3 separate regions of the Homo sapiens genome follow, and all the other regions are linked to region 3. Evidence: fine-mapped expression QTL. A gene starts in region 3. Each other region holds a variant in brackets. All regions are shown on one strand. Distances are between the middles of the regions. Region 1 overlaps SAMD5 (sterile alpha motif domain containing 5). Region 2 overlaps SAMD5 (sterile alpha motif domain containing 5). Region 3 holds the start of SAMD5 (sterile alpha motif domain containing 5).

What was found. PIP is the estimated chance that this variant, and not a neighbour inherited with it, causes the effect.
Region 1: its variant is fine-mapped to the expression of SAMD5 in thyroid (GTEx, PIP above 0.99).
Region 2: its variant is fine-mapped to the expression of SAMD5 in liver (GTEx, PIP 0.91).

The regions. Positions count from the first base shown.
Region 1 is chr6:147,547,103-147,557,862 of GRCh38, reverse strand. The region is part of intron 1 of SAMD5 (sterile alpha motif domain containing 5); the gene reads right to left. Among named protein-coding and RNA genes, the nearest start is that of SAMD5, 44 kb to the right of the region's middle. The variant T/C (reference allele first, on the strand shown) is at 4,060.
Region 2 is chr6:147,525,044-147,535,803 of GRCh38, reverse strand. All of the region lies in intron 1 of SAMD5 (sterile alpha motif domain containing 5), which reads right to left. Among named protein-coding and RNA genes, the nearest start is that of SAMD5, 22 kb to the right of the region's middle. The variant C/T (reference allele first, on the strand shown) is at 5,649.
Region 3 is chr6:147,502,979-147,513,738 of GRCh38, reverse strand. SAMD5 (sterile alpha motif domain containing 5) reads right to left here and starts at 5,049. Exons shown (of 2, transcript NM_001030060.3): 1 at 4,352-5,049. The coding sequence starts at 4,810. RefSeq lists a silencer at 6,848-6,897 and an enhancer at 9,657-10,186.

The sequences.
Region 1 (10,760 bases), 44 kb before region 3:
CAAACTGCTAATCAGTGGCAGGGTGGGTCTGTGCAACAGCAAAGCCCACTTTATCAAAACTACTTCTATGCTCTGCAATCATTTTATGTTGGGAAACTGTAATGGTTGAATAGTGTCCCCCCTCACAAAATTCACATCCACCTGGAACCTCAGAATGTGACCTTATTTGGAAATAGAGTCTCTGCAGATGTTCTTAATTAAGGATCTCAAGATGAAATTATCCTGGATTTAGGGTGGGCCCTGAATCTAATCCCTGGTGTTCTCACAAGGAAAGGAGAGGAGAGGACACAGGGACATACCAACAAGAGGCCAGGTGAAAGTGGAAGCAGAGAGTGGAGTGGTGCAGCCACAAGCCAAGGAATGCCAGAAGCCACTGGAAGCTGGAAAAGACAAGGAAAGAGTCTCCCCTAGAGGCTCTGGAGGCAGCATGGCCTTGCTGACACGTTGATTTCAGACTTCTGGCTGTGAACTGTGAGAAAACAAACTTCTGTTGTTTTAACACACAGTTGGTATTATTTTGTTACAAGCCCTAGAAAACATAGGCTCCTTTGCAGGAAAGATAGAATTTTAAATGTTATTAGAAATGTTTTTTAATCCCTTCATTGATACAAAGGTGATTTTAGACAAAAGTATTTTATTTTTATTCAGAATATAAAATGTTATGCATGATGCTTATTTAGTTATATTTAATGTCATAATGAAAAAGTTTGACTTCTTCCTATTCAATAAATGATGCAAACTTTAAATTATGTATGAAAAATATGATTTGTTAAAATACATTAAAAACTATATGTTTATATGTTGACTCCATGTATATTAATATGCAGACTGAGATTTAACTATTGGTTACAGCATCAAAACTAGAAAACAGTCAACATACAGAACTACTGTTTTTCTTTTGCTCAAAATATCCGCTGGTTTATTTATTATTTACTTGAATATTTGTGATTTATTTTAAATTGCAAGACAAGAGAGAAGGTTTTAGTGGCCACTTTCAAGCATTGCTCTATAAATAACATACTATCGTTGTAGATATAATTTATTTCTGATAAATTAAAATTGAAAATAATTGCCAGTATTTTTGTTTTTATATCAGTTATTGAAGAATGAGAGTTTAATATGTGATGTAAGCATATTTGAGCTCTACAAAGTTTTCATTTTAAAGATAAAATTATTTAAGTAATTGTCTCTGATGTATTTAAAACTATATAATGAAAAGTCACTATTCCCAACCTGGGAAACTTTTTGTAATTTCATGACAGCTCAGAAACCTCCACTTGAGAACACTGCAATGTTGTATCCCGGCCATTCTCTGGTTTTGGTTCTAAGAGCCATTTGAATTCTTAAAAATTACTGAAGATTCCAAATAGCTTTGTTTTATGGGTTATAACTATTGATATGTACTGTGTTTTAAATTGTAACTGTGAAATATTTAAAATACATATTTAATTCATTTAAAAATAACACTAGTAGCCGGGCACGGTGGCTCACGCCTGTAATCCCAGCACTTTGGGAGGCTGAGGCAGGTGGATCACGAGGTCAGGAGATCGAGACCATCCTGGTTAACACGGTGAAACCCCGTCTCTACTAAAGATACAAAAAATTAGCCGGGCGTGGTGGCAGGCGCCTGTAGTCCCAGCTACTCGGGAGGCTGAGGCGGGAGAATGGCATGAGCCCAAGAGGCGGAGCTTTCAGTGAGCCAAGATCACACCACTGCACTCCAGCCTGGGCGACAGAGCAAGACTCCATCTCAAAAAAAAAAAAATAATAATAACACTAGTAAATGCATTACATATTAACACAAATATTTTTGTGAAAAATAAACATATATTCTCCCCAAAATTAAGAAGAATGGCATTGTTTTACATTTGTGCATATCTCTGTATGTCTCTTTATATCTCTCTATATTCAATCTGTGGCAATATGTTTTTAATTGAAGTATATGAAGCACATCTGACCTCACAGAGAAGTATCATTGAAAAAGTAGGGAGTATCTGAACAGACTTTTCAGATAAATAATTGTAGATATTCATTTTAATACCATGGCAAAACTTGACAAGCGGCGGTTTCTTAAAAGTCACTTGCCATGTGAAATTTGAAACCATATCAATGAACTTTTCTTACTGTTTATTACATTAAAATCATTGGTCAATCTTCAACTTTTGATTGACTTTTTCCCCCATACATGATTTTATGGTATCATGTATTGGTCATTTGGAAAATATTCAGTTTCTGAATTACGCAGATCTTCCAAATGTTGACACATATCATTATTCAATATATTTTAAAAATTCCATGTGTTAATATCACCACCCAAGGTAGCCTAATCAAAAAAAATATTTAGGCAGTATGAAACTATCAAACTCACTGGGGCAAGTATAAGTTTTCTGAAATTCTTGTTTTCACTTGAACATTCAAATTTCATCATTAGCAACAGATACTGTCAATTATGCTTCTTGAAATATTAGGTTCACTTTAGTTATTTTTAAGAAATCTGCCAAATACCCAAGTCTAAATAAGCATGGCTTGTTCTCAGTTGTTCTTTCAAGTGAAAATGGTGTTACATGGAAAATGCAGCCAGTTCAGCCAGCAACTCAAACAAGAGCACAAGTGGTTTGCAAGGAGACAAGATTTACATACACGTCCATTTGCAACAGAAGTGCTTTATGAGTAGTTCTCATTTTGTTACACAGAATATTCAAAATCATGTACACAAAGGTGGAGATTTAATAAACATTAATTTCTACTGCTTCATCAAGGCTATTTTAAGGAAAAATTGCTTCTTTTGGCAGGTATATGTGGGTGTGCATATGGGTGAAGAATCCAGTAAGTACTAACACAGGTCGACGTTAACATTTTTATCCACTGTTGCTTTTGTGCTGCCAGTACAAATGCCCTCCCAGTGAAAGAGGCAAATAACATCACATTATAGTATTGTTATGCAATAATTATTACCTTGCAGACCCCCTGAAAGGGCCTTGGGGACGGCACTTTGAGAACTACTGCTCTATACCACTTCTGGATACAAGAAGTTAAGGTAGGCATCACAAAATCAGCATCAAGCGTCCAACCAAGTCATCAGTCTGAAATAGAATTCTGCCCATTCAAATGATAGCTCCATCCTAGCAATCGCTCCACATTCACCCTTCTGGCTCTCATCTGGCTCAGTCCAAGGAACTGGGAAGTCTGGAACCTTCCTGCCATTAAGGTGAGGTGACTTTTCTCTCCTGTCTGGTGAGGGGGTTGCAAAGATGGCTGCTCTGCCTGGAAAAAACATGCTTCTCTGAAGGACTGTGCTTGCCAGCCTTGCCAATCACAAGAGCTTTTGAAGTGACCCAGCAATTGTGAGTGCAGCCAGCCTGCCATATCAAAATAGCCTGTGGCCTCCTGGCAACCAAGCTCAGTTCCCCAAACACTGAAGCCTGGCCTCCACTGGCCACGACCTCACTTGATGAATCGGAAGGGGCAAGGAAGCAAGACAACAGCGTCATCCTCTTTAGCGATTCTTTCCCAGGCACATTTGCATGTTGATATGGTTTGGCTGTGTCCCCACCCAAAACTTATCTTAAATTCTAGTTCTCAAAATTCCCCATGTATCATGGGAGGGACCCAGCGGAAGGTAATTGAATCATAGAGGTGGTTACCCCCGTACTGTTGTTCTCATGATAGTGAGTTCCTGCAGGATCTGAAGGTTTCATAAGGGGCTTTTCCCCCTTTTGCTCAGCACTTCTCCTTCCTGCCACCATGTGAAAAAGGACATGTTTGCTTTGCCTTCTGCCATAATTGTAAGTTTCCTGAGGCCTCCCCAGCCCTGCAGTTCTGTGAGTCAATTAAAGCTCTTTCCCTTTTGAATCACCCAGTCTTGAGCAGTTCTTTAAAGTAGTGTGAGAATGGACTAACACACATGTTTAGTGGCAGCCAGAATGAAGGAAGTCCAGGGTACCCGTGTTGTTTTCCGTCCCATTACCTCGTCTCCAATTTTGGCAGGGCTGAAAAAGAACACTTTCAGACTTTTCAGAAAAAAAAAACATGCTGTGATGTGGCTTTCAAGTTAGACCA[T/C]GGCTAACTGCTTTAAAAGAACAGTGCTTATAAAGTCATCTGAATAACCCTCAAGACACTGACCTTGTCCAAATGAACTCGGAAGAAACACAAATGTGTTACCTAAAGCAGGAAAACACGTAAATAGGACTGAGTTGTATTATGCATTGGAGACCTTACCCATTCATGCTGGGTGTTATGCAGTGACAATTCCTAGGGGAAGGTTTAGGAACAAAGCCCAGACCAAAGGACCTCTCAGCCATTGTCCAAGGTAACCTTATGGCATCGTGTCCAGCGTGGGTCCAGAGTGGTTGTAGGTATGTGAGATTGTATATGAGAAAGAGAAAGATACAGAAAGAGAGAAAACAATTTGGTAGTTGGGGTTAGGGAGTGGAGAACACATGAGGCATACTACCTCAAACCAAACCAGCCAGCCTCTAGGTATTCCCCAGCAGTCATCCTATCCCTTCCTGCCAGGACAGACATGAAGTCCTCTGATGGAAGCAGGACAGGGCAAGGGATCTGCTCAGACTCTGGATTCAAAGTCCAGCTCTGCCATTTCCTGGATGGATGGCCTTGGGCATATTACCCAACCTAACCATTCTCCGCTTCAGTTCCCCCTCTACAAAATAGGAACCACAGCAGTCCCTACATCCCAGAGAGTTATCATGAGGATTAAATGGGCTAATATCTACAAGACTGTTTAGAACAGTATCTGGCACAGTGGAAGCCTATATAACTGGTTGATTTTTCCAGTACCTGTTCTATACAAAGACATGGAATTATATATCTTAGTTCAATCACTGAGTGATGTAAACCCACCCCTAAGGAGGCATAGATACTTAGACACATCTTTAGAACAAAAACATAATGGATGTTCAGCACCATTATTAAGTTAGTCATCCACAAATGTTATTAGAATAAATCATGAATAATGTGTATGCTTTAAGCACTGTTTAGTCATTAACTTTAAAATTTTTCATTTAGCTTTGTGAAGCATGCCCTACAGAACATAACTACCATAGTAGTTCTCAGCTTGTTAAAGCATAAAGACCTCTTTAATTGTTTTTAAAAACACAGACTGCGCCTCCGCAACCCCGCCCCACACAGGCATATGTATGCATGTGCACAAACACACACACAGAGTCACCTTACTGTTAGGCTTTTCTTATTTTCCTGCTACCCTTTGATTGAGAAAAAGTACTGCTTTAAAAGTGACCAAAAATGTAAGAACACCTTCAAATGTGTTTATATAAAACACTATTTATGCAGATGTTCACTGACAATGGTTGATGCCCAAATAGGTTCCAAGAGTCTTGTATTAATTCCTCAAGGGTCTATGTTCTTTGGATTGGGAGCCACTTTCCCAGGGGAATGGTATCTTCTGAAGTGGAAATTGGATTCTTAAAGAAAATTCAATTACATTAAAATAAAAATTCATTAACTGAGAAAAAGGTGAACCCCAGAATCCCAACTTCAACTATAACATGCTTGCATTGGTTAATGTACAACAGGCAAGAGGTCTTTACAGTATTACTTCAAGAAGCAACAGGCCAACATTTTATATGTCTTCTCTCAGAATAGCTGTATTTCCTCTCCACATAATCTCCCACAGTTAGCCTTAAAACATTTCATTGTTTACTCCTTCAGGAATCTGTCTCACTGCAGCAAAGACATTAAACAGCAAAGAACACAGATAATCCCTTGTAGTTTCTGCAGGAACCTCAATTCCAGAGATAAAATAGAAAGGACCCAAATTTCCTGGAACTAATACAGACCCATGGAAACATCCCAGAGCAAGAACATAGAAGCTCAACGGGTGGGATATTTTTCAGAAAATTTAAACTCCGATAACAAGGATTTTAGAACCTCTCTTCTGCTGATAGGAGCTTCCTCTGTGTGACATAGAATACAAACCCAAACACTGGTTTTTCAGGTTTAAAAATATTACATATATATAAATTAAAATGTTAAAATACATATATACATATATATATATATATATATATATAACATATATATAAGAATCACATTTAAGAATAAGGTCTCCAATTCTTTTCTTCTGTGCTTTTCATTTCGTTTGAGATCGAATAAAAAATAACCTTTCACATTACTGCATTTTACTATCACTTTAAGGGAGTTGTTTTTATTTTAGGACATAATGTGCAAAATCATGCTATTCAACATTACATTATATTCACACATCATGGAAGTTAAATAAAGACACCTTGCTGATTTCTTAATATAGATTCAGCTAAGATTAGTTATGCATCTGCCACCTTAACATTCAGATTGGGGGTAGAAAAAAAAAGGCTTAGTTAAAAATCACACTCGCATGGTAAGTGCTTAGAATTTCATGGTTCATTTAAGAGCATCACAATCAAGAACTTAATTACGTTAAAAGAAAATGGTATTTCCTTAACAGCCAAAATTACATTCCCCCTTAATTTCTCTCCTTCACCCCACAAAGTAGAGCATTTTCCTTAACCTCTTGTTTTTTGACCTATGAAATAAGGGAGTTAGCTAGATTATTTTAAGACCCGGTTCTATCATGCTGTAATTTTATGATTTTTAGGGAATAGACTGATGAGGAGGCAAAAAGGGAACAGAGCCTAGACACTATGAGAATTTGGCCAATTCAATTCCTAAATGAAACAGTATTTCTCCTGGCACCTAACAACTGAACTGTGCCCCAGGGCGCTGTCAGTGGTCTGAGAACTTCGAGTGGAAGGGCAGCAAGGTATTACAGAATGACAGCTATCCCAACCCCTCTACTGTGCTTCCACATTTGAAATTTGTGTCTAACAACATGCTATTCAATCACTGAATGTCAAAAAACATGGATGCCTCACAACGAAAATCTGTGTGTTATGGCACCAGGATGGACTGAGAACTAATAATGGGAGGGTTTATATATATATATAAATATAAGAGGTATAAGTGCAGTTTTGTTACACGGATATATTGAGTAGCAGTCAAGTCTGGGCATTTTTAGTCTAACGGTGACCCCAATAATGTACATTGTTCCCATTAAGTAATTTCTCATCCCTCACCTCTGCCCACCTCACACCCTTCTGAGTCTCCAATGTCTGTTATTCCACATTCTAGGTCTATTGTACACATTCTTTAGCCCTCACCTCAAAAGTGAGAACATGCTGGTTTTGACTTTCTGTTTCTGAATAGTTTAACTTAACATAATGGCCTCCAGTTCCATCTATATTGCTGCAAAAGACATAATTTCACTCTTTTATATGGCCGAATGGTATTCCATTGTGTATATATACCACATTTTTTTAATCTAGTCATCCATTGATGGATACTTAGGTTGATTCCATATCTTTGCTATTGCGAATAGTGCTGTGATAAACATATGAGTTCAGGTATCTTTTAATATAATAATTTCTTTTCCTTTGGGTAAATATCCAGTAGCAGGATTGCTGGATCAAATGGTAGTTCTATTTTTAATTATTTAAGAAATCTCTGTACTGTTTTCCATAGAGATTGTACTAATTTACATTCCCACCAACAGAGTATAAATGTTCCCTTTCCCTTCAACATGCTATTTTTTGACCTTTTTGTTTTAAGAGAGACAAGAGTCTCATTCTGTTGCCCCGGCTCTAGTGCAGTGATCATGGCTCACTGTAACCTCAAACTCCTGGGCTCAAGCAATCCTTTTTCTTCAGCCTCCCAAGTAGCTCAAACTACAAGTGGGCCACCATGCCCATCTAATGTTTTTATTTTTTTAGAGACAAAGGTCTTGCTATGTTGCCCAGGCTAGTCTCAAAATCCTGGGCCCAAGTGATCCTCCTGCCTTAGCCTCCCCCAGTGTGGGGATTACAGGCATGAGCCATCTCGTATGGCCTATTTTTGACTTTTTAATAATAGCCGGTTGATAGAGGATTAATGGGGGAAGGGAGAACTTATTTTTAAATCAGCAAATCTAACAATAACTTCCAGTCTAAGTAGCAAACTGTTTGTGTTCTGCAAGTTACTATAAATGTACAGTATAATCCTCCATGCTATAGAAGTACATAATTTGCTCCGGTGGTGGATAATGTTCAAGTTGGTTCAATTCAAAGAGAATCTAACTGGTGATGAGTCATGTTCTCCCAGTAAACAAAACATGAGGCAAAGGCTCATATGTAGATAGTTTATTTGGGAATGTGATCCTAGAGAGTAAAAGGAAGGAGTGAGTGAAACAAAGAAGGAAAGCCCAAAACCGACGCGATGTGTGAAGGGGTTGGCTGCTTGGTGATGTGTTGCTCTATTATGGAAAACCTTTCCAGGAGCCTTAGGAAATACATCTCAGAGCTGTGCATGAAAAAAGAACAAGGAGAGAAACATTTATCCATCACCTTCCATTACTCATTTGTCAAGGTTTGTCTCATGGATGTTAATATCCTTGCACTTCCTGTTCATACATGTATGAGTGCCAGTCAGTTCCCACAGGAGTACATGACAAAGTTAGAGGAACCTCTGGACTGAAAGCAAGAAGCACAGGCCTAAACCAATGAGCTGCTAGGGTGCACCTATGTGATGCTGGTTGAAACTCATGCAGAGCTGTTTGCTCAACCGTGGCTGCAATAGGAATTCAGGCCAAGATGATTTGAACTGGTGCACGCAAGTATCAGGCGTTTATCAGTCAGGATGGGCCAGTTCTGCTTCAGTAACAAATGACCTCACAGTTTCAATGGCTTTCAACAATGAAGTTTTATTTTTCACTCATGCTACAAATCCAGTATGGGTCAGCTATGGTTCTGTGCCATTTTCTTCACTCCAGGATCACTGCCAGTCATTGTGACTAAGGGAAAAGATTTAATTTGTGAACCATGCACAGTTTTGTAAAGCTTCTGCTTGGAAGAGAGCCACATCACTTCTACTCACCTTTCATTAACCAAAGCATGTCAGAGTTCAAAGGGTTAAGACACATAATACTCCTGCAGGGAGGGGCAATGCAAGAAAGGTGATTTCAAGAGGAGAAATACAATCTGTCATACTCTGCCTTCATTTTCATGGGGAGAAAGCCAAGGGTAAGAGAAACAATTCACTTCAGGGAACCCTGTGCAAATTCCTTCACAGCACCATCTTTTCTTTCAGCACATGACCACCCAATATTTTTAGAAATATTAAGTCCTAATCAAGAAAGCAGATCATTTTGGAAACAAAGGGAAAAAAGGCATAGAGGATACCTTTGGGAGAAGCATTTGAAATCATCTAATTCCTCTACTGTACATTCTTCATTTGATAGATGTTGAGATGAGTTCTGTTCTCAGAATCACAAACGAATTGACTTCTAAGCAAGTTAGTCACAGACCTGGGACTAGGACTTGGTTCTCTGCATTTCCCATTCTGGGGTAAAGTTAACAGGGAACACATAATTCTGTATTCAAATTGGGAAGCAGAGAATAAACAATTAGACATGTAACATAGACAATTTCAAATTCTGCCACGTTCTAGAAAGACAGTAAGAGAGTGATATGATAATGAGTGGTGGGGTACCGAAATGATGGTCTCTCTGAGGAGGCAACATGTACAAAAACTATTAAACCATTCATATAAAATCACAACCTGATTTTTAATAATAGTTAGCAACATTATCCTCTAAGGGATACTGTTCATCTATTAAGATCTCTGAATGGCTTTTACCCTCTGTGCTGTCTCTCTACTTCCCACTCCCCGCTAAATCTCTTTCTCTTAATTGGCTATTATTATATTTTTTCTTGTTGAACTTATTAAATGAGATTTTATGAGTGCTGTTCTTAATTTGAAAATCAAGGAAGTAAACTATTCTATATGCCCATTACCTAAATTAAGTTGCTCTTTAAGTATTTTCTGTATATCAAGAAGCCTTTAAAAGAAAATTCATATTCTCTCCCCACCAGCTTCAGCCACCTCCTCTTCCCCTATCAGTATCTAATTCTTGTTGAAGAAAGATTTCTTACTTTTCAATTCTGCATTTGGGCAAAACTACAGGTTCCATGAAAAAACTTCCTTCCTAAGCTATATTTCTTGGGCAGAAATAAACGCAGTCAACGGATTTCTAAGAATGACCCCAGTGATTCCTCTTCTTGTGTAATCCCCTCCGTTTCGAGTGTGGGTGGAGCCTGTGAATATATGATAGATGGCGCTCCCACGATGAGCTTACAGTACATGACAAAAGGGAGATTATTCTCTCGGGTTGGTCTAATCTAATACCTTGAGCCCTTTAAAGTCATAGTGTTTCTCTGGCTGGAAAATAATAAGTCAGAGAAATTAAAAGTCTGCGAAGATCCAACCCACCATTGCTGGTTTGAAGATGGAAGGCGCCACATGAAAAGAAGTGAGGGCAGCCTCCAGCTCAAGAGAGTGGACCATGGCTAACAGCCAGCAAAGCAAACGGGAACCTCCTGTCTGTAGCTGCAAGGAATTCTCCCAACAAACTAAATGAGCTTGGAAGTGGATTCTGCCCCCAGAACCTCCAGATAGGAGCCCCGGCTGGCTGATACCTTAATTTTGGCTTTCTGCAACTCTGAGCAGAGAATCCAGTCAAGCTTGAGGCTTGCCCAGAATTCTCACCCACAGAACTATGAGATAATAAATGGATGTTATTTTTAGCAGCTAAGTTTGTGGCTATTTATTATGCAGCAATAGAAAACTAATGCAACATGTAACTAAATTTATCAACCGAGGTGTTCTGTTAAACAGCTAAATAATGACTCTTTCCCACCTTCAGAATGTGCACC
Region 2 (10,760 bases), 22 kb before region 3:
CCCCAGATTATCTTAGGACCTCCAGAGAAAAGGAATTTGCCCAACTCGTAGATATTTAAGGATACAAACCATGGCTAGGCTCGACTTTCAAAAAGTCTTATCTAAAATTCTTCATAGAATAAAGTTCTATCAAAGCCAATTTAAAAAGCCTAAGTAAAAAATAATCATTCTTGCTACACTTCATGCAAATAATCAGGCCAAGTACAGAAAGACTAAAGTTTATTTTGTAAACAAATCAGTTCTATCATGATTTGTTTTTAATAAAAATGGGGACTAAAGAAAAAAATTATGCTTCAAAAGAAAAACTATAGTACACTGTTGTTAGCTGTTCTTAAGGCTTTTTCTGCAGTTTAAACTAAATTCTAAATTATGTGCAGGTTAAAATCCCCAAACTAATGTTTTCAAATCTTTGCTTTTAAAATCGAAATTTGTACTCCTCATCCTAGGACTTGTTATTTACCTTATAGTAGGCTGTTCACTTAAACACTGTAGTAACACTATAAATAAAAATACTAATGTTTGCCCTGCAAGCCTTGGAAGCTCAACCAGGGCTGCATGAGCACGCTCACACAATTACAAAGCGGTTACACGCTTCTCACCTTGGGGTTCACTCCCATTCCCACTACGTCCCCTGTAAGCAGGAAGAAGTCAAAGCGATCAATGGCCATTTCCTGTCTTCATAGCCTATACCTTAAAATTAAGATGTTATAAAACCCAAAGGAAGGGATTGAAACCGCCTTTGCAAAATTATAACTGAGACAGTGAAAGAGATCTAACTTAACTGACTTCATCTTGCTTGTAACCTCCAAGCTGTCCTTGTTCATTCCTGGGCATAGGCTGAACTAACTTTGGGAGAAACTTAGTTTATAGTTTATGGTTTAAACAAAGACAGTAACAGCCCTGTCCCAAAGCAGACCTCTCCTTCTTGCCTGGGGACTAGATTGCTTTTGTAGGACTAACATCCGCCACAAAATTAAAAATTATGGTTTAGGAGTCATGCAGATAGAGGTGACCAAGATTTTAACCTTCCCTGAACTGCTCCTAAGATCAGTGCTTGAGATATTTTGCCTGCCCTTGATGGATCAGCTGGCACCAACCAGATCAATCAACTGGCTCATCTGATCTTGCGGCCCCCACCCAGGAACTGACTCAGCGCAAAAAGACAGCTTCAACTTCCTATGATTTTAACCCTAACTCCTGGCTCACTGGCGTCGCCCCTCCCACCAAGTTATCCTTAAAAACTCTGCTCCCTGAATGCTCGGGGAGACTGACTTGAGTAATAATAAAACTCTGGTCTCCCGCACAGCCGGCTCTGTGTGAATTACTCTTTCTCCATTGCAATTCCCCTGTCTTGATGAATCGGCTCTGTCTAGGCAGCAGGCAAGGTAAAGCCCTTGGGTGGTTACAGTCCTTGCCCCAACCATTCATTTAGACAAGGTACTTTGAACTCTGTTTGGGGAGGTTTGGATTTCACATGAGATTTTGCTTCAAAAAGGGTGCCACGAGAAAAAAGAACACAGTCCTTTCGCCCGTGACTCATCATGTCTCTACAAGTGCTCTCACTTCACCCAGCAGAAAACTCAGGCTGGAAAGGTAAAAGGGCTCACCGCCCTCAGGCCCAAAACAAAACTAGCTAATGGCATCACAGGGTTCTGAACTCCACATTCCTCTTGCAGTCCTTCACCTCTATTCTAGGTACCCCGGGTCATGTCCACACTGTGGGAGGAGATGACCTGCCCTCCTGGCCCTCCTTATGGGCTAGGCTGAGAATCTACACTGGGGCTTCTGATGGTTAATTTTAAGTGTCGACTTGGCTTGACTGTGGTGCCCAGTTTATTTTTGTAAGACATCAGTCTAGACATTGTTGTGAATAGTTTTTAGATGTTGATTAACATTTAAATCAGTAGATTCTGAATAAAGCAGATTAGCCTGCATAATGTGGGTAGGCATCATCCAATCAGTTGGTGGCCTTAAGAGAAAAAGACTAAAGTCCCCCAAGAAAAAAGGAATTCTGCTTTTAGACTGCCCTCAATCTCAAGACCGCAACATCAGCTTTCTTGGATCCCTGGATCTGCAGCTGCCAGTCTGCCCCACAATGGTGTCACCAGTTAAAATAAGAGAGGAGGCGGGGAGGAGGAGGAAGGGGGAGAGGGGAGACACACATCCTCTAGGTTTTATTTCTCTAATACAGGGCTCCTCATTCGGCTGGACTCCTGGTGACTCTCTCCTCGCTGTCTTCTGCCACCACTGATGCTCTTGCAAATCCTGTCCTCTACCTTCCTGATGTCAGACTAGAAGCTTCTTGGTTTCTTTTCTTTCTTTCTTTTTTTTTTTTTTTTTTGAGATGGAATTTCGCTCTTGTTGCCCAGGCTGGAGTGCAATGGCGCGATCTCGGCTTACAGCAACCTCCACCTCCCGGGTTCAAGCCATTCTCCTGCCTCAGCCTCCGGAGTAGCTGAAATTACAGGCAGGAGCCACTGCGCCCGGCCTTGGTTTCTTAAATGCTCTCTCTGCTTGATCAGTAGGTCTACCATGAAGTTGAGGCCTCAGGCCCTTTACCTAATTTTGCATTCTTTTGCTTTAAAGAAGACCTTTACATTTCATAAACATCATGCCCTGCAAGCCCTGGACCTGCCCCGGGGCTTGGTGGATTGGTCTGGGCCCCTATGTTGGGTCTGGGCTCTGGGTGTGCTGGCCTCTGCTGGCACCGCCAGCCCCCTTCCCAACCCAAGGCCTGACCATGGCTGCACTGCTTTCATTCTGCTGTACAGGGAGGACAACACAGGAGGTAAAACACCACCACTCCCCTGAATCTCAGTTCAAAAGAACTTTGGTTAACATTTACTAGCCAAAATCTGAACTAGAAGTAACCATAATAAAAATGCCCTCTCGGTAGTGCAGGGCTAAATGTTTAACAACTGGCTCTCCGGGAGGAAAAATGTATGCACGTGGACCCATTCATAACCTCATTATAACTATGTTATAAACCGTACTGATAGAAAGGCTATGTAGATGTTGGTGTGGATGTGGTGAAAAGGGAACACTTTGATACTGTGGGTGGGAATGTAAACTAGTACAACAACTATGAAAAACAGCATGGAGATTCCTTAAAGAACTAAAAGTAGAACTACCATTTGATCCAGTAATCTCACTGCTGAGTATCTACCCAAAGGAAAAGAAGTCTTTATATGAAAAAGACACATGCACAAACTTGTTTATAGCAGCACAATTTGCAATTGCAAAGATATGGAACCAACCTAAGTGCTCATAACCAATGAGTGAATAAAGATAATGTGGGATGTGGAATACTACTCAGCCATAAAGATGAATGAAATAATGTTTTTTGCAGCAACTTGGATGGAGCTGGAGGTCATTATTCCAAGTGAAGTAACTCAGGAATGGAAACCCAAATATCATATGTTCTCACTTATAAGTGGGGGCTAAGCTATGAGGATGCAAAGGCATAAGAATGATATAATGGACTTTGGGGACTCAGGGAGGTGGGGGAAGGTGGGAGGGAGTGAGTGAGGGATAAAAGACTACCTAATGGGTACAGTGTGCACTGCTCAGGTGACAGGTGCACCAAAATCTCAGAAATCACCACTTAAGAATTTATCTATGTAACCAAAAAACACTAGTACCTCCAAAACTGAAATAAAAATTAATTATTTTAAATATATATATGAAACTCTATGTGCCAGTCACTGTTCTAGGGGATAGTAATAGAGCAATGAAAAAAGAGACAAACATTTGTTTTCTGGTAATGTCTACGTTATAGTTAGTTTTACTATCTCTTTTGTGATCCTATTCTATAGAAATGATTACTCCAATGAATTTCTACAAAATTTTTCAGTATGTTTATCTTCTCCAAGAGAAATTATTATATTGAGTATAATTCTCCTATTTCCTCCTTTTTAAAACTGTTTGATGATATAATCTCGTACAAATTTCTATTATGGGTCGTTTTATTACTCATCTTTAAATAAAATTAATTTTTTCTAGACCGAAAATATAAGGCTATGTAGCACACAATTTACAAAATAAATAAACTCTATAATATCCCTCATTATCAACTTCATATATCCAATTGATCCTCACAGAATGTTTTTTGTTGATTTTGGCCAAGCTCTTATATGGGAAGCCATCCTACAGTTGCAATAATGAGTAATAAGTTCTGACATGAATGTTGGTTGATAGGTTTGTTTGCACTGATGGGCAAAATGAAAATGGAGGAATGTGTCCCAGTGAGCATTCCATTCAGAGCAACACTCACTGGGTGCCCGCCAGGTACCAGGCATTATGCCGGGCCTGGGGCAGATGAGATGAGTAAGGCATGGGCCTGCCTTCACATTATATGGAAATAAGAAGATTTAAAACAGCCATTATCCTGGTAATAATCTAAGATTACAATTAAATACTGCAATTTTGGGCAGGATTTTGAAATGCTTAGCCAAAATCAGTTCTACAATTTACATAATCATAACTGATTATTATGGCTTCAGTGTAATTTCACATGTGGACTGGACTTTATTCACATAAACAGGATTAAAATATTTTTCTAAAACATCAGAACCAAAATTAATCAAGTAATTTTTTAGAACCTAAAGAACCTCTATCATCTCTAAAATTGACAAAAAAAAAAAAAAAACTTTTAAGACTATCATTTTTAAATCCTCAAAAGTTTAAATGTCCTGGGATAACTGAAAAATATATCCTGGTTTTCTTATATAGACCTCTTCAGCCAGAAAGGATTTACAGTAAAGAGAAAAAGGTTTATGTTTTATAAACAGAACACTATTTAGTGTGCTTCAGTCATGATTGTAGTTTACAACTTTAAATAAGGCTAATTCTAAATGAAAGTAGGTCAAGTTCAGAGGTTAACTTGGATTAACTTGGATTTGTGTTCCACAATTTTATAGGTCCCAGAATAACAGATTAAGACATCAAACAGTAGAAACAGCAAAGAAGGCTGATTACGCAAAATGCCTGGGGCTCAGAACCCTGAATGTGCTTTTTCTCTCTGTGTTTGGGAACCACGGCCTGGTCCCGCAATTCCTCAACTCCACCCCAAGCCATTTGCACCTTTGCTCTCTTCTTTTCAGTCGGTGATTCTTAGCTTTTGCAGGAATTCCCCTGTCTGCAAGGTTTGCCTCTCACTGGTGGTTCTGCTTATTAAGTGCACAAACCTCAACAAGGACCACAAAGACAAAAAGCAAAACCACAAGCCAGTTGTGGCTCAGGAGGCAGGTACTTGGGCAGGATGGCATATCTCCAAGATGCGAGGGGAAGGAAGGAGCTGGTTGGCCCCAGAGGGCAATGCCGGCTGCTTCCCTTTGTGCTCCTCAGCATATAGGAAATGAGAATTGACATGCCCTATCACTGAGAAAAAAGCCATCCGCACCTGCCGCCTTTGTGCTGCGCACACACCATGCTCTTCCGAGGTAAATCTTGACAAGTAAAACGTCCCTGCACATGGGCAGTGCTTGTGTGCACAAGGTGGTAAGTTACCGTATTGCCAAAAATAATTTCTCCTCCAGTATCAATGTGTTTCCTGTCCACAACACCTCCAATGATAGTTCAAAATCTAAGGTTAATTATTACTGCACAGAAATCTCAAACACAAAAAATAAATATTGTCCTTTCTGCAG[C/T]GAAACCTCTAATATGTTTGTTTGATAGTTCTGTTTGGAGTTTACGCAAAGCCTAAATACCAGGGGGAAAAAATCGTCCCCATATATGGTAAAAACATACTTTAAGAAAATAAAAAAAGAAACACCATAAGAAAAGGTGCTGAAGAATCCCAACTGCACATGACATTTTTAAATGTCTTCTCAACTGATTTCTAGAATAAATCTTTTTTACTAACTTTATTCTTATAAACACATAATACAGATCATAAGTATCTCAGTTGCCATATGCATTGTATAAACTGGGAAATCCTGAAATAACTGTTTTAATGACAATATTCAAAAACAGTCTTATAGTACAAAATATTTGTAAGTGCCCAATTCATTTTTATTGGATATTTAAAAATGTTCTAAAATGAGTATAATACTAGCAAAATAAGTGGTATGAAAAACATTAATAAAATGAAATGCTTTACTTAGAGGTGGAGATGAAGTAGGCAGAAAGTAAAAATGACCCAAGGAAATCATTACTGATGAGTTTATTCAGCATTTTCTATGTGTGCTATATTCCTTTATGCAAACCTTCTGGAAGGCTTCCTATGAGGTTGTCTGTAATGAAACAATAACAGTGTCCAATCATACTATATATCTTAGCAACACAAAGGAATAGTTCATCTGCGTGTATACATTATAAGACAATTAAAGTTTATACTATTAGCGGAAGAGAATGTTCAATTCTAGAAGATAAATACACCTAAATTACATTTAAATTGGTATTCATCGAACTCTTGGATTAAGACCAATTAAAGTTATTCTTGAATAATATTGGGGTATAGATAAGAATAAAATCTATGTCTTAATTGATAAGGTTAGAAGAACAATATTTATAATATTTTAAAAACATGATTGCCAACCTATGAAAACTTATTTGATTTACATAAATATAAATGCAAATACTAATATTTCCCTAGTAGTTTTATTGCTAACATGCCTGTGAATAGATCTGCCATTTTCATCTTTAATAAAAGCTAACACTGAATACATAATAGTTTACTAAGTGCTTGCTATGTACCAACCACTAAGCTAAGTGCTCTACATACATTTTCTGACTTAATCCTCAGAATAGTTCTAGGCAGGAGGAAACACTGTTATGTTAGATTTATCTATAAGGAAACAGTGGCAGGGAAAGCTGAAGCAATCTGGCTGAGGTCACACAGGTCAAAAGTGATGGAGTCAGGACCATGTGAATTGGGAGTCTGAGATTTATTTCATCAATGGTACTGTTTGGCCCTTGTTTAGGGGGTTATTCTCTAATAAATGCCATGCAAATGTGCAGTGGATTTATGTTCATCTTTTCCAAGCCTACTTAAAGTTATTGCAATAGTGACTGCTCCTGCATGTGGTAGAAACTGAACTATTTAGAGGAGACCACTTTCACTAGGCAACCACCTAGTTTCATCAGCTGTTAGATTCAAGCTCCAATTCCTACCACATGTGACTGGGATTAACTTAACCACTGACAACATAACTTTCTAAGTCAGGTGGTACAGCCTGGATTAACTCCTCAGGTCAGTCTTATGGGGTGAACTGCATCCCCCTAAAGTTAATATGTTGAAGTCCTGACCCTCAGAATGTGACTGTATTTGGAGACAGGGCCTTTAAAGAGGTGATTACAGTAAAATAAGGTCACAGGATGGGTCCCAATACAATATGACTGGTGTCCTTATAAGAAGAGGAGATTAGGACACAGGCAAGATACAGACAGAGGGGTGACCACGTGAGGACACAGTAAGAAGGTGGCCATTTGCAAGCTGGGGCACGTGGCCTCAGAAGTCCACAACTTGATCTTGGACTTCAAGCCTTCAGAACTGTGAGAAAATAAAATTCTGTTGTTGAAGCCACTCAGTCTGTGGTATTTTATTAGGGCAGGCATAGCAAACTAATACAGTCAGGAGTTAAATCCATGCTTAACCCTTGCTGGTTTATCCGGTTCCTGAGTGATACGGTTTGGATCTGTGTCCCCAGTGAATCTCATGTCAAATTGTAATCCCCAGTGTTGGAGGTGGAGCCCGGTGGGAGATGATTGGGTCATGGGGTTGGAGTCATCATGAATGGTGTAGCAGCATCCCCCCTTGTACAGTGAGTGAGTTCTCACAAGATCTGGTTGTTTAAAAGTGTATGGCACCTCCCCGTACGCGCTCTCTTGCTCCTGTTCCTGCCATGTAAGATGCCTGCTCCTGCTTTGCCTTCCACCATGAGTAAAATCTCCCTCAGGCCTCTCTAGAAGCAGATGGTGCTATGCTTCTTGCATAGCCTGCAGAACTGTGAGCCAATTAAACCTCTTTTCTTTATAAATTACCTCTTTATAAAAAAAACCTTTCTTTATTAAAAACACCTATTTTCTTTATAAATTAGTTCTTGGAAGTAACTAACTAGTTTTTGATTTTACAGGCTCACAGGTGAAAGGGACTAGCCTTGTCTGAGATGAGACTTTGGACCTTTCAGTTAATGCTGGAATGAGTTAAGACTTTGGGGAACTGTTGGGAAGACATGATTGTATTTTGAAATGTGAGAAGGACATGAGATTTGGGGAGGGGTCAGGGGCCAAATGATATGGTTTGGATATGCGTACCCACCCAAATCTCATGTTGAATTGTAATCCCCAGTGCTGGAGGTGGGGCCTGGTGGGAGGTGACTGAATACGGCAGTGGACTTCTCATGAATGGTTTGGCTCCATGCCCCCTTGGAAATGTATAGTGAGTTCTCAAAACATCTGGTTGTTTAAAAGTGTGTGGCACCTCCGCCCTTGCTCTCTGTTCCTCCTGCTCTGGCCATATTCAGTGCTGGATCACCACTTTGCCTTCCACCAAGAGTAAAAGCTCTCTGAGGCCTCCCTGGAAGCAGACGTTGCCATGCTTCCTGTACAGCCTGTAGAACCAAGAGCCTGTTAAACCTATTTTCTTTATAAATTACCCAGTCTCTGGTATTTCTTTATAACAATGTGAGAATGGACTAGTACACTGAGTTATGTGCCTTTGATCAATGAAAAGAGGAAAATGAACTGATTATCACTGAAGCAATGTAGCAAAGCTTTTCAATCCAAAGCTTCAAAGCTGGAGGATAAGGTGGGATACAGTAAAAGGGGTGACTATGGATAAAGAGATTAGGAACTCCTGAAGAGAGAATGGGAAAGAAATCCAAAAATGTTAAAAATGTGAAGGAGCTTCATTAAATAAACAGGGTTAGGTAATTCTCCAGGTCAAATATATCTGACAGGTCCCAGTTTCTGGAATGAATTCTAAACTCATTAGTACCACAGGGAAGTTCCTCAACAGCTCAGCCCAACCTTATGCTTCATTTCTCCCATCCCATTGCCGCCCAAAGTGGACCACTCACCAATCCAAACCTCGCACTTTTGTCACTCTGAGATTTTGCTAATGCTGTTTCATGCATGCATTCATTCAATAAATATTTATAGCAAGCTGCTGAATATACAAAAAGCTTATAAATGGACAGTATCCCTGTGGAGTTCACAGTCCAGTTCCCTTAGCTTCCAGTATACAGTCCACACTGTGGCTCTGCCTAGTAAAATCCTACCTATCCTTCACATTCAGTTACGGCTGAAAGATACTCCAATACCTCAGTCAAAATGAATAGTTCTCTCCTTGGTGCTCCCACAGGTTTGTATTTCATTTTGGCATTCATATGATGCTGAAATGTTATGTTTACTTACATATATATCTATGAATGGATGGATCTGTGGATGTGTGTGTGTTTATCTTTCTCCAGACTGTAATTTCCATTAGGGCACATTCATAGTATTGTCACCTTTGAATTCCCCGCATCACCCCAACAGTGCTTTGCACATTCTTGGTGCTCAATTAATATTTGCTGAATGTAAGTAATAATATTAATTAATAATCACGTAATAGGCTAAAATGCACAATTAAACACAAATATGAAACTCACAAAACCTAAGCCTATAAAACTCCAGTTTTAAAGTGGTTTCCCTGCAAAACACTGCTCCCATTCCCTCTGCACATATCCATGCTTTTTAGTTGAATTGCAACAAGCCCAGTTCATCATGTCCTAGCTCTGCCCTAGGAATTCATTTCTAGCAGGCTATTTGAAGAGTGTGGTTGTAGGTGACACTGATGAAGTGTCAAAAGGCAGCCAGGTGTGGTCTCTGTGGTATATCCAAAGATAATGGCCAACAGGCTGGGCCTATACCTGCTGCTTGTTGAAATTGAAGATTAGTTTGGAGATTGATGTCACCACCATGAAACCATCTAGCTTTCCAGGAGGCATGCTGGCTTTCTTGGTTGTGCTTTTCTTCTTGTACGTGAACACATCAACAGACTGATCCTGCTAAAGAAGCAGAACTGGTCAAGAACATTCAGGGACATTGGCAGTAACCAGTGCCTCCCTAATGCTGACTGGCAAAGGCTTCTCTCTTCATCAGACTTTGTGACATAGGTGTTGATTTCGCTCACATAGTAACCAACCCCCATAGCTCACACCTTGATTAAATTCTGAACCACTCACTTTAGAAGGCCGATGACTGTGATTTAAATTCGGCCTTTCCATTGCCAGTAACAACAATGCCAAGTCACAAGCGGGAAAAGTTACAGTCATTACCCTTGTAACCTCTAGCTACTAACACTTCGGATATCAATTAATAGAGTTTACTGAAAGATTAAACACCATTTCCACAGATTCCAATCTATTCTTATTTCTCCATGTATTAGTGTTCTATGGACTTTTCAAAATGTATTCCCACTCCAGGCTGGCCAAATTGATGACACACTTGCCTCCAACACACGTCTTCAGGGGTCAGCCATACCATCACCACCTCCATGAAAATCTTCCTCCCTGCCATACTAGATGCCCATTCCATGAACCACATAGACAGGTCCCCACAGCTACTCCTCCTACTTACCACAGTCAATGTAAACCCTACTGATTGAGCAGTTATTGCCACAATAAGTTCTTGAGGGCACAGGCGGCTAAGTCTTCCTCTTTTTTTTTAAATAAAAATCTCTAAGACATACCCACTCCCTATACCATATCTATTTTTCACCAACAGAGAAACAGACAGTTGCCAAATCTTATAAAGCAATGTTTCTTGGAGAAATT
Region 3 (10,760 bases):
TTACCCTTGTCAATCTCTCCACACTATTGACCCTAGAGCTTACCTTTTGCTTTGACAAGTCTGCTAGAAAATAAAACATACTTACAGCCTCCCTTAGAGCTTCCTCTTCCTCTGGCCGCCTCTGAAATCCTGCTGTTCCCCAGGGCTCCTCCCTCTACTGCTCATCTGTAGTCACAGCTGCAGTGTGCTGTGTGTGATGTAGGGACATTCCACAGGCATCTCACACTCCGTATGTTTCAACCTGAAGGCAATATCTTTCTCGCCCAAACTCGCTGTTCTCCTGGGTCTCCTACATCACATCACAATCTTAAACCAGGAATCTGCATGTCATTCCAACCTCTCTCCCCTCCCACCCTGTCATCCAAACAATCATTTAAGTTCTGTCAAGTCTACTTCCATTGCTGCTGTCCTACTGTCATAAGTGGCCCATGCCACTAGTGTCTCTCTCCTGACACTGCAACAGTCTCCTAAGTGTTTGGCTTGCCTCTGGTCAGGATGTGTCAATAGCTCTCTTCTGCTCACAAGATATACTCCAAATTCTTTAACATGACTTCTAGGCCACCCAAGACCAGCTGCCACCTGCCTCTCCATCTCCTGCCACTTTCTCCAGGCACTCAGTGCTTTAACCAGACAGAATTCCTTGCCATTCCTGTTGATGCCAAACTTCCTCCCCTTCCTGGCCTTTGCACACACTGTTCTCTGCTGAGAACACTCTTTCCCTTAAGACCCTGCTCCTCTTCAGGCTAAATATGCTCAACCGTCAGTACTCAGGTCATAGGCCAGTTCTGGAAAAACTGAGATGGTGCCCAATCCCTGCAAACTGGGTTGGATGCACCTGTTCATGGTATCATGTACTTCTCATCAAATCAATCGTCACACATTATCATTATTGTTCATTCCATTTTAAGTCTTCCCTACTAGATGCTAAGTTCCCAGAGGGCAGAGCTTTCACATCCTGCCAACCACAGTAACCCAGAGTCCAACAGAAGGCCTGGCATAGAGAAGCTTGGTAAAAAATTATTTTATCCCCATTTCACAAAGGTAGAAATCACAGCAGTCAGAGAAGCTACATACAGGGCAGAAGAGGAACTCTTCCAATGATGTTTGATTTAAAGCCTGGTGCTCTCTCTAAGCTCCTGTTTTTTCAAAGCTATAGAGTTCCCTTTGGAAAACAAAAGAAAATTTACTTTTTATTTACGTTTTAACTCACTGATCCCTAAACCGCATAACTTTGACCATTACTGGATCAAATCCTACAATCCTTTCAGGTGATTCTTGGGAAGACCCCTCAACTTACTTTCCTCTGTAAGAGACTCACTCTCCCTATCTTGATAATCTTTGGCATAATTCACCTTCAAGCCATCTAAAATTCTCAGCAAAACAAAATCACAGGCATCATTGATGCAAATGACTGCAAAGGAGACTGAAAAGCCCACTCCACCAAGCAGAATTCCAAATGCACATCAAAAATACTACACATTCTGGCGGGGTGCGGTGGCTCACTTGTAATCCCAGCACTCTGGGAGGCCAAGGTGGCTGGATCACCTGAGGCCAGGAGTTCGAGATGAGCCTGGCCAACATGGTGAAACCCCGTCTCTACTAAAACTACAAAACTTAGCCGGGCGTGGTGGCAGGTGCCTGTAATCCCAGGTACTACTTGGGAGGCTGAGGCAGGAGAATTGCTTGAACCCAGGAGGCAGAAGTTGCAGTGAGCCGAGATCTGGCACTGCACTCCAGCCTGGGCAACAGAATGAGACTCCATCTCAAACAAACAAACAAAAAATACTATATATTCTGATCATGACAAAGCCAAGGAAAGTGGAGAAATTAGAATGTGGATCACACAAGAAAAGAAAAAGTTCTAGCACTGCTCATGAAGAAACTAGCTACATCAGAAAACAAATTCTTCAATAATTTAAAATCCAAAACTTAAGAGGCAATGCACATATAAGCAACAAATCCAGAATGATCAACGTGATCTGGTACTAAACATTTGTATGCTCAGTTTGCTATATATGTATATTAATTATATGTGTACATTAATTATATTTTAATTCCTATTTCAGTGTGTGTTACAATAAAGTTTGTCAGTGCCAGTTTTTTTTTTTTTTGGTCCCCAACTCAAGGATCAATGAGGGAGATAATGAAAACACTTCTGTTTCTATTTTATTCTTCCATCAGTTTGAGGAGAATTAAATATGTATAGAAAGTGAATAGGAGCATATCTTTGTTATCAAGCATTATTGCTATGGGATTTATTTTAAAGCAAAGTTGACTGAAGTAATTATTTACATGGAAAGTAAATAGTATTGCAGTGCAACTTGGCATTTTCTTATGTAAACTGCACTTATGCAAATGCACTACCATAGCACCCACTGATCTAGGCAGGAGACCAGAGTTCAAAGCCTATGTGCTGACATTTCTGATGACGTTTCATCCCCTTAACATCCTTTCCAGCCTCTATGTTTGATATGTAGGTCTGCCTTTTGCTTTTTAAGAATCAGAACTAAAATGTGTCACTTCAAGCTTACGCTTCTCACCTCCAGCCCACGGTGTCCCTGCTCTCCCCGCCCCATTACACAGCACTTTTCCTGAAGAATAAGTAAGCTCTAGTGACACACTTTGCTCTCTGCATTCCTTTCTTGCCAGGACTTGAACTGTGCCCTTATCAAGTGCCCAGGTACTCACATTCTCTCAGACTAAGCCCACCTTACTTCCCGGGATGCTAATAACAAACATCTAACTGGCTTTGATCTCCTTTGACCTGCTGTGTCCAGGACCAAGCCTTTATACTGATGACCAGATCTCTCTATCCACACCAGACATACATGGAACTCCTACATACAGGCAACTGCCTGGGAAAAGTGTTCTCTCCTTTCCTGCTTTGAGCACACATCAGTGGCACAGAGTGGGTAACTGGAACACGTGTTTAATTTGAAGCACTCTGTCCTCCCAACCTGCCTTCTTTGTATCCTCCTTAAAAAACCAATTAACATGGTCAAGCAGGTGATCTGAATTGCCTATGGTACGTGCAAGGTAGTAGATAATATTAAACCCCTTATTCCCATCTACCTTAGGTATTGTTATCTACTCTTAACAAAGCTTTCCCTTTAACTTCCTTAACTCCAGGCATTACAGCCTTTACTTAAGATTCTACAGCAATACTACCAGGGCCCAAGATACCCACACAACACTGAGATTATCCACATTTCCTATTAGGGAGTTGGGTTTCTGTGGCCCACCAGCTGAGTATGTTTGCCATCATTTTCTCCCTGGGCTCTTCTAAGTCTTGATTTTTAAGCTGAGGTGCTCATATTCCTGTGCACCTTCTGCAATCCTGAGCGTTACCTGTGCTGTCTACTTCTCTATCAAGTCAGGACCCTCTACTCCGACAGCCGCCTGAACTAGAAACCTAAACGGAACAGACTCGCAGCTAGAAGCAGAGCTCTGGTGTGAAGTACCATTTTCTGTTAATTACCCAGCTCCCACTCCACATTTCGGAACTTCCAGGTTCCTTCCCTGAGGCCCCCGGTGCAGAGGATTCCCCTTTAGTTCACTTGTGCTCGGTCCTCCTCTCCCAAATGCAGGTCCACTCACACTTCCTGGAAGTCACAGTTGTACCTACTTCATCTTATCTGGCTTAATAATAAACCAAACTCGTGACAGCCCAGACCTCTGAAGCACATCCTGTGGCCCGATTATCTCTGATGTCCTTAGCACCTTATTGCCTCCAGTATACACAAGTTTAGGAAATCATCTCAAGTGGACTGACACGTGCTTCCTTCACTTTTCCTCTTAAAATGCTCATGTGAATGGTAAGCTTCTCAAATTTGCAGCAGCGCTGGGATTTTTTATGGAATTGAGAAAGGCAGGGCCTGACTTTCCACTCTTTAAAGAGTTCACCGATTTCCCTTAGGAGTTTCTCAAGACTCAAAAAAGGAAAAGAAAGAGAAAAAGGAAGGTAGAAAGCAATGTAGGTATTAACCATTTTTTCTGGTACTCTTCAAACCCAAAACTACTATAGAGGGCGTTAGGAATTCCCCCTGGCTACCAGGTGAAGCAGCGCGAGTCCGATTCCTGACAGGCGAGCACCAGAGAGGATGCGGAGTTTTGGTCGTTAGTTTAGAGATAACATCTGGATGCGGGGGCTTGTCTTACCAACCACTGGAGACACCAGGAAGGACGAAATAATGGGCTAATACAGAAAGAACATAGAAAAGGGTCCCAGATACCCAAAGCCTCCTGGCCTCTCCGTCGTCACCTGGAATGGGTTGCAAAGCCTTGGCACAGGCAGCTGGGCTGTGTCCCCTCCCGCCGCGCGCCCCGGGCCGCCCGGACGGCACCTCCTTACCTTGCGGGAGTACGGGGGCTTGCTCAGGTGGATGCCGTCACGGACGAGCTTATCCCTGATCATGATCTTCAGCTTCAGTTTGGGGTAGCTCACCAGCTCCCTGCTGCGGGGGGCGGTCGTGTGGCCGCGAGAGTCCCCGCGGGTGCCCTGGGCCGGGCCGCCGCACGGCTCCCCCCGGCGGCCGGTGGGGACGGCGTCGGCGGGCGGCCCGGGGGGCGCCGGCTGCGGCTCAAGCGTGAAGTAGAGGCCGGCGGCGTTGGCGTCCTGCTCCCGCAGCCGGCGCACGGCCTCCAGGATACGGCGGCGGTGCGCGGGCGCCAGCACCCCGATGGCATCCAGGTCCGGGTCCCCGATCTGCTTGCACACCTCCAGGTCATCGTAGCCGTTATCCACGAAGGACTCCGCGTACTGCGGAAGCTGCAGCGCTTTGAGCCACTCGTAAACTATGTTGGTGCACATGGTGGGACCGGGAACCCCGCCGCCGAGCACCTTCCCAGCGCCCAAATGGCACGGGCGGCACCAGTTCTTGGAACTTTTAATCCTCTCCTCCAAGGGGAAAAGGGTATCGCAGTAAAGTTTTCCTTTTAAAGGAAAGGCTCGGGCAGGAGACGGAAAACCATCAGAAGAAGCCTGAGGAAGGGAGAAGCGAACAAGCAGCAAAGTGAATTCCCCAAGCAGCAGCGGAGCTCGCAGGCACTGGCTGCTGGGCTGAGCAAGGCTCCGCGCCGCCCCTGGATGCGCCGCCGACGCTGCCGCCGCGGGGAGGGGCGCGCGACTGGCGCGGGAGGGGGCGGAGACGGGAGGGGCCGGGGCACACCCCTCGGACCTGCGCCGGGTCAGCGCTGCGCAGTGCCGCCCGCGAGTTTTCCCAGCCGGGACGGTCCGGCGGCTGCGCGCCGCATCTCGCGCTCTGGCAGCCGCCGCCGCCGCTGGCGCGCTCCGCGCCGCGAGGCGACTTCTCCACGCAGACCCGCGGCCGCTGGGAGCGCCTAGTCTTCGCGAGTGTCAGTCACTGTAGTCCTCCCGGCGGGAAGCCGGTGGCTTCTACGCTGCTGGGCTCCGTTGGCTGCCCTGGGTTGCTTTTCACATTTCTGTTTAATCTGACTCTTCTACCCGTGGAAGTCTGTGCTCACTTCTTCCCGACCCTGCCGGACTCCAGCTTCCGCGCCCGCTGGCAGCCCAAGGACACGTCCCGCCGCCCCACGGCGCTGGGGACGCTGCGGGGTTCAGTGTCCCTTCCTTCCGGATCCGCGTTTGAATCCCCCTTCCTCGGATCCCGTACGCAGCCCAGAGCCCGGCGATCTGACTTCTTCCGTGGGCGGCCACTCAGTGACCCGAGCGGCGGCGTTTTGGCCCGGAGGGTGGGCGCAACGTGGGGACCGCCCGGGTCCAGCCGGCTTGCGCGCCGCCCCTCCTCGCTGCAGCTGGGCACGTTGGGCGGCAGGAGAGGCTGCTGTCTTCCTGGCTCTCCCTTCCTAAGCTCCCGGGTCTGCGAAAGTTTGGGGTGGGTTGTACTTTCTCCTAGGTCAGTGTGTCCCACCCGGTACCCCACCCTCCTTTCTGCCCGGCCCCTCCCCCTCGTCGGCGCTATGCTTTCTCTCCGGGCCCCCCACCTAGTATACTGCACGGGCTCCCGGGGTGGCTTTGCCCCCGGGGACACTGCCAGGCGTTCGGTCCTGGAGCCCGGGAATCCGAGCCTATCCTCTCGCTCCCGCCCGGGGATCGCGTGAAAATCAATAGAGCACCACCCAGCTCGTGTTGGAAGGGACGCTCAGACATCTCCGCCCACGGCATTTTCCCTCTAGGAGGTAACAAAATCAATCGAGTTTCCCCATCATGCCAATGTCTGAGCAGCCTCTTGGGACTGGGGACTCGAGTGGCAGGTGGAACAGACCAAGCGCCTGGGCCCCATTTCCCGGTGTCTGACCTCTTCTTGGGACTAAGGGAAGTGAGGGACGGCGGGGGCAGGTACTGTCTCCTCTCTTTCCGCAGAAGGGCGATTCAGCTTCGCACCTGAGCTGTTTAAGGACCAGATCTGACCTTTTTTTCTGAAGATTGCCCGTGGGGCGTGCCAGTCTCTCGCCCGACCTTGGGAAGTGGACAAGGAGTGATTTCAGAGTCGTTTCTCGACCTGCTGTGTGTTTGGCATTTGGGTGGGTGGTTAGGTGGGCCCTCTTATCCTAAACCAAGAGAGCTTAACCCCCTCTTGGGACACGAACCCCTTAAAGAATCAGATGACAGCTTCTGTCCTTTTGCCCAGGAAAATACCCGACATAGGCGCACCCAAAACGTTCCCTACAGTCGCAGGGGGGTTCTGGTTTCCCAAACCCCGGGACTCACGAATCTCAAATTAAGGACAGCTGGCAGAAAGGACTGTCTGCTTAGGGGGAGGGGAGAGACCAACGCGGAGAGCCGGTGGAGCTGCTTGTGGCCCCAAACTTGGGTCACCCGGGACGCCCTTTCCGGAACCGAGTTAAGGTCTCGGACCCTGGTAGGTGGCGAAGCTCCTGGGCGCTGGGATGCTGGAAGGGCGCAGCCCTCCCCGCCCCGCGCGGGCCGCCGCCTCTCCCTCGCCAAAGCGGACTCACAGTGCCCCCTCGCGTCCGCGCGTTGACCCATTTTAAGGCGTTGTCCCTGTCCCCAAACTCATTCTATTCAGCAGAAGAAAGTGGGCTTTATGGCTTTATACTGGTTCCCCTTTGAAGCACAAATGTTTTTGTCACGTTTATCTTTATATCCCAATACTATCTCAGAAGGACCTTTGATTTTTTTTTAAAGAAAATATTTCAGCAGTTTGAATGATGCTGCTAAGAAACAGAAATTATCAGCAAATATTTATTGGGAAATTACTGTATGCCAGGCATCTATTCACAGATCTGTACACATATGGTAAATAGTAATATTATCCCATATCTTACAGAAGAAGAGATTGAGACATCAAAACTAATTTGCCAACGATCTCACTGTTACGGATGGAGCAAGGGGTTCGAATTCTGGGGGGATAAATTTAACATCAGCCTTCAGCCGTCCAGCTACTCACCTTCGAATCACAGTCCCCAGCCTGTGCTGTGCTGTGCAACATGTAGGGGGAAAAAATGGGCAGGTTGTATGGGGTGAGGATTTTTGTTTGTTTGGGGGTTTTTTGTTTGTTTGTTTTGGGACTGGAAAACTTAAAGCTCAGGAGTTTTTTTGTCTTTTTTTCTTTCTTTCTTTCTTTCTTTTTTTCTTTTCTTTTCTTTTCTTTTTTTTTTTTTTTTTTCTTTTTAACAGAGTCTCACTTTGTCGCCCAGGCTGGAGTGCAGTGGCATGATCTCGGCTCACTACCACCTTCGCCTCCTGGGTTCAAGCAATTCTCCTGCCTCAGCCTCCTGAGTAACTGGGACTACAGGCGCCTGCCACCACGCCCAGCTAATTTTTGTATTTTTAGTAGAAACGGGATTTCGTCATGTTATCCAGGCTGGTCTGGAACTCCTGACCTCAGGTGATCCGCCCGCCTCTGCCTCCCAAAGTGCTGGGATAACAGGCATGAGCCACCGCGCCCGGCCTATAGCTCAAGAGTTTTGTTGTGTTGTTTTCTTTCCCAAGTTGTATGAAAAGTCCAACAGCACGAGTCTGTAGTTCTTTGCCTTCTTATATGTGGCCTTTTCCCCTCTGGGGGCTTAAACATATTCATCTTGTCTTATAAATCCTCAGCGAAGGCAGTGAGTATTTTTATTTCCGTTTTACGATTAGGGATACTGGTTGGGGGAAGACGAATGACTTGCCCAAGGTCACACAGTCAATCAGGACACAGACGAGAACATGCTTGCCCTATCAAAGTGCTTCCCTGACAGGCAGCAGCGATCCTCCTTTATTTATGTGCAAAGCACTCTCCAATTAGGAAATAAAGCATTCTGGTGCTCTCTTTGGAAGGGAAGCCCTTTATAAATTCATCACTTGTTAATCAGTCATAAATAAAACCTACTCACTTTTGACCTCTCAGGAAACCTGCTTTCTGGAGACTTCACTAGTCTGAGCTATAGAGACTTTTTTTTCCCAGGTTTCCCTTCTATTTCTCTTGTACACTTCTACACTTACTCGAGTCCTCTTTGGGTGAACCATTGAGGCTTGTATCTTTCCACTGCTTGCATTAGCATATTGAACCTTTTAATAGATTTCATTCTAGAGGCTACTACGCTAAAATGTGTCTATCTCTGTGGAGACTAATGGCTAAAGTTCAAAGTGACACTGGCAAGAATGGCTAATTTTAAGATTTAGAACTGTAGCCTTTTAGAACTAGAGGTCATTGGAGGTCATACCCAGCATCCAGATTTGCATGGAGGAAGCCAAGGCCCAGAGAGGTCAAGTTCCTTACCTAAAGTTACACAGCTGGTTCATGACAGAACTGGGACAAGAACCCAGATCCGCTTCCTCACATTGCTCTTTGCAATGTACTGCATTACCTCATTTTTGCTGCAAGCTCTTGGCTACTGTCAAAATCATTCATTTACTCATCAAATGTTTATTAAGTAGGCACTTCAGTGCCAGGCACTGAAGCAAAAAAAGAAGGGTTTTCCTTCATTAATTGGAATGGGAGGGACTTCAGCATTTTAAATATGTAGAGAATAAATTGACAGCTTTTTCAAATATGTTAGTTCATGAATTGTAAAGATTACAAAGATACAAAGCAGTGTTTTCTTCTATCTGTAATATTTTCCAAATTCTGTGATCATATTAGCCAAAATTCAAAATTAAACTGTATTTGAAATCCAGACAAAAATGTACTTTGAAAATGCAAGTGGCTACTCTGCTCCTAGTCACAGCGTTAGAACACACAATTTACTCAGAAAACATGGTCAACTACCTCTAATTTTGTGTTACTTTTATCATTGCTTTGTTAGAGTTATATAAAAATTTTCAAAATATTGATCATGCTGATTATTATTTAATATGTTTGGGGCCACACTTACTTTTGCAGAGGGGATGTCTTGCCTAATGAAAATCAATGGGAAAATAGGTTATGGAGAAAGTTTCTTTTTAGGCACCATTTTAGAACTGTTTTGCAATGGTAATCACTATGGCAAAATGCCTGTTGATCCTTTCCATGTAATTAATTAATGATAATTATATTCAGGTTTTAAATTCTAAATATCAGAAAACAGCTTTTCTACTTTGCTCAGTAACTTGATTTAAGGATATAGAGTGAAAAATAATTTGTTATGGAATTTTCTTGGTGCCGTCTAAGGTTTCAGACTATTTTAGAAGATAAATGCTCACACCTAGTGCATGTAAAAATTAAATTCCATTAACATCTATTAAATGTCAGTCCCCAGGGTGTCTAGCCTTGTAAAAGTCAAAGATATATAATATTAATCTTAAAATGCAAAATATGTCTTGCCTCTGCTTAAACCAGGAGCTAAAAAGCATCTAGAAGGAGTGGATGCCATAGGGAGAAAAGAGAATAATGGGCTTGAGTGATGTAACAGGCAATCTCTTCTTCGGTGGCTGGGAGTGAGGTGCTGGGTTGGCAACTTAATTGGGGGCAGGCAGGGTGGGGGTGTCTCTTAATATGTCTGAGCTGTATACATTAGACTTGTGTGTGACAACACACATATGAAAGAAGGAAAGACAAGGAGCAGTGGGGAGTGCCAGCAGGATCCCATTAGATTATTCGTTGCTGTTATAACAGGCCTTTCTTTCTTTAAAGAAGGAACAAAGGGGGAGGAAATGCATGTTCAAGAAGTCATTCACTTAGAGGTCACTAACAAAAAGAGAGCCAAGCTACAGACTGTGTTTGTGACAGAAAATCAAATACGAACCATTTTTCAAAAATTTTATTCTCTCATCTTTGGTAATCCCCAAAAGTTCTACGTTTTAAAATGTACTCCAGAAGAGGAGGAAAAGGTTAATCTAGTGTCTTCTGAGGTAAAAATGATAGGTGCAGTATTTTGTTAGATAACAATGGGCAGCTCTTAGGAGTACCTTTATTTTATCATTCTAAATGAGCAAAGCTATTATAATTTAGCACCTAAATGTTAGGTTATGTAACCCCATACAAGTGAAATTATATTGGTCAATGCTATTTCAGACAAGTGCAAGTCATGTATATAATCACAACAATGAAATCACTCAATTTATGACCAATGCAAATTGACTAAACAACATTTTTCCCATCTGACAGTTTCTTCCCATTCTGGAGTTAGGACAAGCGATCCCATAGAGCCTGCTTCCTGAGACCTGCATGGCTACTGATGACTGAGAGGTGGTTGGTTTTCTCTCTTTAGGCAATGTAATTTTATGTATTTGTTTTAAAATTTTCAGTGCTTCTTGTCTGGTTTAAACTTGCTATTGGAATTTATACTTTATAACTCTTGAATTCTTAAATTATAAGAACCCAGCATAATTAGAGCTCTTAGTAACGCCTGAGATC